Linked DNA regions of Homo sapiens. The protein of the gene in region 2 interacts with the protein of the main gene of each other region in a pairwise test. Each region holds a gene or a part of one and is shown on either strand. Other genes may lie near its edges.

Region 1 (3,500 bases), on a different chromosome or scaffold from region 2:
CAAAATATCTCATGTGCCCCATAAATATCTAACCTACTATGTACCCACAAAAATTAAAAATTGTCCAGGTGTGGTGACTTATGCCTGTAATCTTAGCACTTTGGGAGCCAAGGAGGGAGGATCGCTTGAGCTCAGGAGTTCAAGACCAGCCTGGGCAACATGGCAAAAAAAACATCTTTACAAAAAATACAAAAAATTAGCCAGACATGGTGGTATGTCCCTGTAGTCCTAGCTACTCAGGGGTTTGAGGTGAGAGGATCACTTGAGTCCGGGAGGTTGAGGCTGCAGTGAACTGTGTTTGTGCCACTACACTCCAGCCTGGGCAACAGAGTGAGACCCTGTCTCAAAAAAAAATTTAAAAACCAAAACAATAAAAACAGCAGTGGCAACTATTGTTTATAGAGGGTTTATGGTGTACCAGGCCCTCTGCAAGAATTTCTAATGGAATTCTCTTAAGAACCCTATGTTTTACCATGAACCCTACTTTTGGATGAGGAAAATAAGCTTGGAGAGGTTAAAGCACCTGCCCAAGCTCACACAGGTGACAAGTGGGAGGCCCCAGGTCTAAGCAGTGCTGAAGACGTCCCGCCTCAGGCAAGGATCACTTCCCCAGCACTTGCCTCATCATCTGCCATCTGACCTGTGGACCCACTGTCTGCACACGTTGAGCCTGGGAGTACGCACCTGGGAAGTCTTGGGACTTTCCTGTTTAAAATCTCCCCAGAGTGGGGTGGATTCAGGGTCTACAGCTCACCTCTGTCCCAAACTCATGCAGCTTTGAGAGACCAAGATATTCAGAACCGAGTGTGTTTTCTTTTCTTTTTCTTTCTTCTTTCTTTCTTTTTCTTTTTTCTTTTTGTTTGTCTGTTTGTTTTTTGAGACAGAGTCTTGTTCTGTTGCCCAGGCTGGAGTGCAGTGGTTCAATCTCGGCTCACTGCAACCTCCGCCTCCTGGGTTCAAGCAGTTCTCCTGCCTCAGCCTCCTGAGTAGCTGGGATTACAGGCTCCCGCCACCACGCCTGGCTAATTTTTGTATTTTTAGTAGAGACGGGGTTTCACCATGTTGGCCAGGCTGGTCTCAAACTACTGACCCGCCTCAGCCTCCCAAAGTGCTGGGATTACAGGCATGAGCCACCATGCCCGGCCCTGAGTCTGATTCTTAAGCTGGGTAAGTTTCCATGTATTAATTTTATTATACTTTATAACTGATAGATATACAGTCTATATATTCTACCAGTGCACAAGATATCATAATAGAAAAGGCCATGATGATAAAGTGAAAGGGAGAGATGGCATTTATGCTAACATTCACGATTTGAGTAATCAAATGAGTGAACGAATGAAGCAATCTACTTTAAAAAAGAGGGCCATCAAAGCTGGAAGTGTAGAAGTGTCCTTTCTTTTACTATCTATCCACCCACCTATTCATTCCTCTATCGTCCCCACCCTACTCCATCCTGCCTTCCTTCCATCCATCCAATAAATAAACATTTCCTGAGCACTCAGTCATTATAGCTGTACCTAGGGAATAGCCGCAAATAATTGACTGACACACCCTGCTCTCAAGGAGCCCTCAGTTTAGTTCAGAAATGAGGAGGCCAAGGCCCAGAAAGGGAAAGTGATTTGCCCAGGGTCACACAGCAAGTGAGGGAAATGAGGTAAAGAAGGGTGAGGGTATTCCAGGTGGAGGGGAACCCATGGGCAAAGGCTCAGACCTGTCTGCCTCCAAAGCGAGCCCCTGTCAATCACTGCCTGAAACCCGCCTCCTGGCTCTCCATGAAGGCCTGAAGAGCCTGCCTCACTCCATCGCTACTTTCATTTTTGTTATTCTTTTGGAAGGGGAGGAGGAGCCAGTGGCTGCTGCTGTCCAGCTGTTATGTCGGACCGCACATCCCAGCCCAGATGTGTCAAACTCTCTGTGATGGGTGAAGTGGCTTCTGGGCCACGAGCCACGAGCCAACGGCCAAGGAAGCGGCAGTGAAGGCTCTGTCCCAGGGGAATTAGGGGAGGAGGCACACTGAACCCGGCGGCAGGGAAGCCCATGGTTGCTCCAGCTATCAAACTGGCCTTGTAGACAATATGGTGTGTCTAGGTGGTGGGGATCAAGATCTTTGACATTCCAAAGAAATCAATACCTTTGACATATTTCCTCTGAGGGTCAGAGTCCTGGGGCATTTCCTGCCTCTCCCAGCTTCTCCTGAACCAGACAATCCCACCCCCACACATTCCCCAATCCTGGTCCAGGGTCCTGCCATTCAGTCTGGCTTCCCCAGGGCTGCTCAAGAGGGTTACACAGAGTTCCAGCTCACAGTCTTGACTTAACTCCACCCAAATATTCCTCCTCCATCCTGCCCCCAGGAGTGCTGAGACTTCCAGAGAAACAGCCTGTTCTCCAGCATCTGGAGCTGGTTTCTTGAGGGAGGTTCAAGGGCAAGCCAGGTTCCAGAGAGAGATGCTCCAGGAGGGCCTCGGTACCAGGACTCGCACGAGGCACATGATACAGGGAGAAGACACAAAACAGGGATGTCCTTTATGCTCCCCTCTCCTGGTGCAGTAGCCAGGCCAGGCCAGGGCAGACAGAAACAGAGTCTCCTGAGGAGTCCTGGGAGCTGCAGAGAGCAAAGATCCAAGTCCCCAGAAGGGCTGGGGAACAGCATCCTGGGGGTGAATCTGATAGGGTGTGAAATGGGATGTGGGAGCTTATTCAGGGGATCTGGTTTTGCCCATAAAGCTCTAGGCATCCAAGGTGCCCTAAGGATGGGAGTGGGTGAGGATGAAGACAGGGACCCTGTGATATGAAAGATCCTGAATTTTCCTTGCTCTAGAGGGGAAATCTCAAACTAGAACAATGAGAGAACTTGCTTGTAGCTTCTTCTTGCTCCCCTCTTTGACTCTCCATAGGACTCCTGCCCTTGAGCAGAGTGCACAATGGATAATAATGCCTATACGTGTTCAGTAAAAGGAACATGGCCCCAGTCCCTGTGGAAATGCCTTTTTTTTTTTTTTTGGAGATGGAGTTTTGCCCTTGTTGCCCAGACTGGAGTGCAATGGTGCGATCTTGGCTCACTGCAATCTCCACCTCCTGGGTTCAAGCGATTCTCCTGGCTCAGCCTCCCAAGTAGCTGGGATTACAGGCACATGCCACCATGCCTGGCTAATTTTTTTGGTATTTTTAGTAGAGATGGGGTTTCACCATGTTGGTCAGGCTGGTCTCAAACTCCTGAACTCAGGTGATCCACCTGCCTCAGCCTCCCAAAGTGTTGGTATTATGGGCATGAGCTACCATGCCTGGCCAGAAAAGCCTTCTAATAACTCCTTTGCCACTAAGGAAGAGGGAAATTGGGGCAGCATGTGCAGAGATCACCTTCTGAGAAAGCTTTCATGACCTGTAGCCTGGCTCAGCCTCCTGCCATGCTCTGCTCCATCATGGCGCCCACCATGGTGTTGATACTGCCTATTTCCCTCTCTGTCTCTCTCATTCGTCCGCGATTGACTGGAGGG
Region 2 (3,500 bases):
CAGCTTTGGTGCTACATAGACCATTACGCTTATGAGATATTAGTAAGTGCTCCTCAAACAAAAGCCAAGATAAAGAAAAAAAAACAGTGTAAGAGAAAAACCTGTTATATGCTAATGTGCACTGTGAGTCTCTAAGACAAAAATATGTTTATATAACTACAAACCTAGTTTTATGTTGCAGATCACTTATTAACAGGTCAAATAACATAGTATTCTGTGGAACACAGTTTGATAAACACTAGCTTTGGAATCAGACAGGTCTAGTTTTGAATTCTGTTAGTGCTACTTATCAGAAGTGTGACCTTGGGCAACTTGCTTAACCTGTCTTTCACTATATCTTTGAAATAGGGTTATTAATACTTACCTCAGAGGTTGTTCTGAGGGCTAAATGAGATACTATTTCCAGGATGGCTCAGTCCCTGTGTATCTGCCTTATTCAGTGAAAACTCACTGAAAGATCAAGTTCAGACCTTACCTACCAGTCCATTCCTAAGGGTAACCCTTAGCTTCTAACAGATTTTTAGGAATAAAACATACACGGGGCAAGAATAATCCCTTGCTTGTTTCATACGTTTTAAAAAGAGGTTTCGTGTGCCATTTGTAAAAAAAATAAAAAAACAAAAAGAAATCAAACAATAAAGAAAAGCACATGTTTTTTTTCCATTTGTACCTATTAGAACAAATTGAAAATGTTAAATTTCAGTAATAAAAGATAAATAAATAAATGCAAGTACAGTTTCTGTAAGACTTCCTTTCAGTGAAGAAAAGCGTTTAATAGAAAAACACCTTTGTATGCTAAGATTGAGAATACGTTATTAGAACACATTTCTTTCTCCACTGAACTCTGTTAAGACATGTTGGAAAATCCCAGCAATAAAAGGCAAATGTAAGCACAGTTTCTTTAAGATGCATAAATTGTTTTCTTTCAGTGAATGGAAGTGTTTGGTAGAGAAACACCTTTGTAAGCTAAGATTGAGAATATATATTATTAGAACACATTTCTTACTCCATTCAAACCTATTAGAAAAAGTTGAAAAATCCAGCAATAGAAAGCAAATGTAAGCATGCTTTCTTTAAAAAAAAATTCTACATTTAAAAAATAAAGAAAAGTATAAAGAAGAAAGCATAAAATCTTCTGAAATCCCACCTCCCAGAGATAACCATCATTAGCATTTTGGCAAACGTCTTTCCAGACACTTCTCCATATACATTTCTCTATATACAGATTGTCAATTTACATACAAGAGCATTCGCAAGGTAATTACGGCTCCCTATCCCTTCCTACACAGAGCCTGTGGCAGTCTTTGTTCCTTAGCAAAGACAATTGAGGCTGTGATTAAGAAAAAGTTTTTCTAAATAGGAGCGAAAATCTGCCCCAGTGAGGGCTCCCAAATGTAGGCCTTGCTCAAACAAACTGAGATACATAATAGATAGTTCACTGAATCCCACAAAATAACTAAGTTCCTCATAAATGTCTTATTTATAATCCTCAAATCGGCCTGACAACTTAGGTGTCATTAGCCCCATTCTGCAAATAGAGAAGCCGAGGACTGGCACAAGGTCACCCAGCTAAGAATCATCAAAGGCAGGGTGAAGGCCAAGTTCTTTCAGCCTCCAAAGCCCATGCTCTTTCCACCGTCCCAGGCTCTGGTTTTGTGCCTATTACTTCCCAACTCATTTGGTGCAATGTGTTGAGCATCCAGGAGAAGACCTTCCATTTTTCATCAGCTCGTTTGAACTCCTGTGAGCAGTGGCTGAGGTGCAATCAAAGTTATCGCTGTACGTCCTTTTGAAGAGTAATAAGCAGTTGTAGAGGAAGAAGTAGGGGTAAAATAAAACGAAGCCAAAGCATCAACTCTCATGTATTCGTGTCCATTCATCTCTCCATCAACTAATCAAGGAATATCTGTTATCTTATTCCTTCCTAAAATTGTAATCTGATAAAAATTTTGTTTCTTCTAGGTCGCTGTTAGGGGAGAGGATTTGGCGATTTATAGAAGAAGAGAGAAATAAGGAAGAAGAAAAGAGGAGAGAAAAAGTGAAGAAAGACAAATCCAGATGATCTTGGAAGCTCACTTCCTCCCATGTGGGAGCTTAGCAAGATACTAATAACAGCTGAGGTGGGACAGGGACTCTTCTAATAAGCTTACTTCGTAAATCAGGAACAGTTACCTAAAACAGTTAGCACTGTTACAGAGTCAAGAGACCAGAGGTTCTCCGTCCTCCTAGGTAGAAATATGCAGAACTTTACATACGGGGTCCCTCGGCTAGAGGCCTGTCCATGGTGTCTGCAGGCTGGCTATGCTCAGATTAAGCAAGACTCTTTGTGGGATAAGAAAAGCCACTTTGTTGGTATTCCTATCAAAAATTTAAATAACCTGAATCTAATCATGAGGAAACATCAGATAAACCCAAATGGAGAAACATTCTAAAAAAGAACTGACCTTACTCTTCAAGAATATCAATGGCAAGAAAAATTCAGGAAGTGTTCCAGACTAAAGGAGACAAAAGTGACAGTTGAAGGCAATGCGTGACTAGAAATTTCCTTTTGCTATAAAGAATATTAAAGAGGTAATTGGTGGAATCTGAATAAAGTACATAGATTGTTAATTATATTGCATAAGTGTTAATTTCCTGGTTTTGATCATTGTAAAGTAGTTATATAAGAGAATGCATTTGTTTGTAGAAATATACACTAACATTCTTAGGGGAAAGGGCATCAATCAAATTACTAATTACTGTCAAATGAGAGAGCCAGAGAATAAACAAATGAAGTAAAATGTTAATATTTTGGAAATCTGGGTGAAAAGGATTTAGAAATTTTTCATAATATTTTTTCAACCTTTTTATCAGTCTGAATTTTGTCATTTTTTTAAAGGGATGGGAAATAAATAAATGATCTAAGGGATTCTCATCTCAAAATCATTACAATTTGTCTTCTATGTTATAAATACTGAGATTCTACAATAGTTATTTTAAGAAGACTAAACTATGGAATAATTCTTGAATGCCTTTATTTGCTCCTGATATAAGGTAAGCCATAAGTTCAAATTTACTTTAACAAGTAAACTTTAACAAGTTTTAAAAGATATGAGGCATTAAAATCATTTCTTACCCCTATTCCTCAATCTAGTTCTCCTGAAATAGAAAAGGCCAAACAAAAAGGTTTGGAAAATAAAATATATGTTAAGTATTTAGTTTGCTAGCATAGTAGCTTAAGATCAATTACATTTACAATTAAGTGGTATTTTTATGTTTGCTTATGTTAAAATGCACTAGGAATTTATGTAAATGAAGAATACAGTCTAATGATGCTTACTTAATAAAAAATCTCTTAGAAAAGGGACTATAGTATAATGTAGAAGAAAGAGCATGCCATAGAGAATCAGAAGACATTCTGAATAACTATTAAGTAATTTTATGATTTTTGGACAAGTCATTTTACCTGAAAAGTAAGCAGATTGGACAGTTGCGACAGCTCCTATTTATTGGCTCTCATT

Evidence for each region. The genes of interacting proteins can lie anywhere in the genome.
Region 1: the proteins of CD53 (region 2) and CREB3L1 interact in binary tests that used the Homo sapiens proteins (3 or more experiments, as listed by UniProt).

Annotation. Positions count from the first base shown.
Region 1 is NC_000011.10:46,284,162-46,287,661, reverse strand, and holds part of CREB3L1 (cyclic AMP-responsive element-binding protein 3-like protein 1), read right to left. Parts: intron 1-3,500.
Region 2 is NC_000001.11:110,876,148-110,879,647, reverse strand, and holds part of CD53 (leukocyte surface antigen CD53), read right to left. Parts: exon of another isoform or gene 2,014-3,500; coding exon of another isoform or gene 1,963-2,013; intron 1-1,962. UniProt on the Homo sapiens protein: Structural component of specialized membrane microdomains known as tetraspanin-enriched microdomains (TERMs), which act as platforms for receptor clustering and signaling.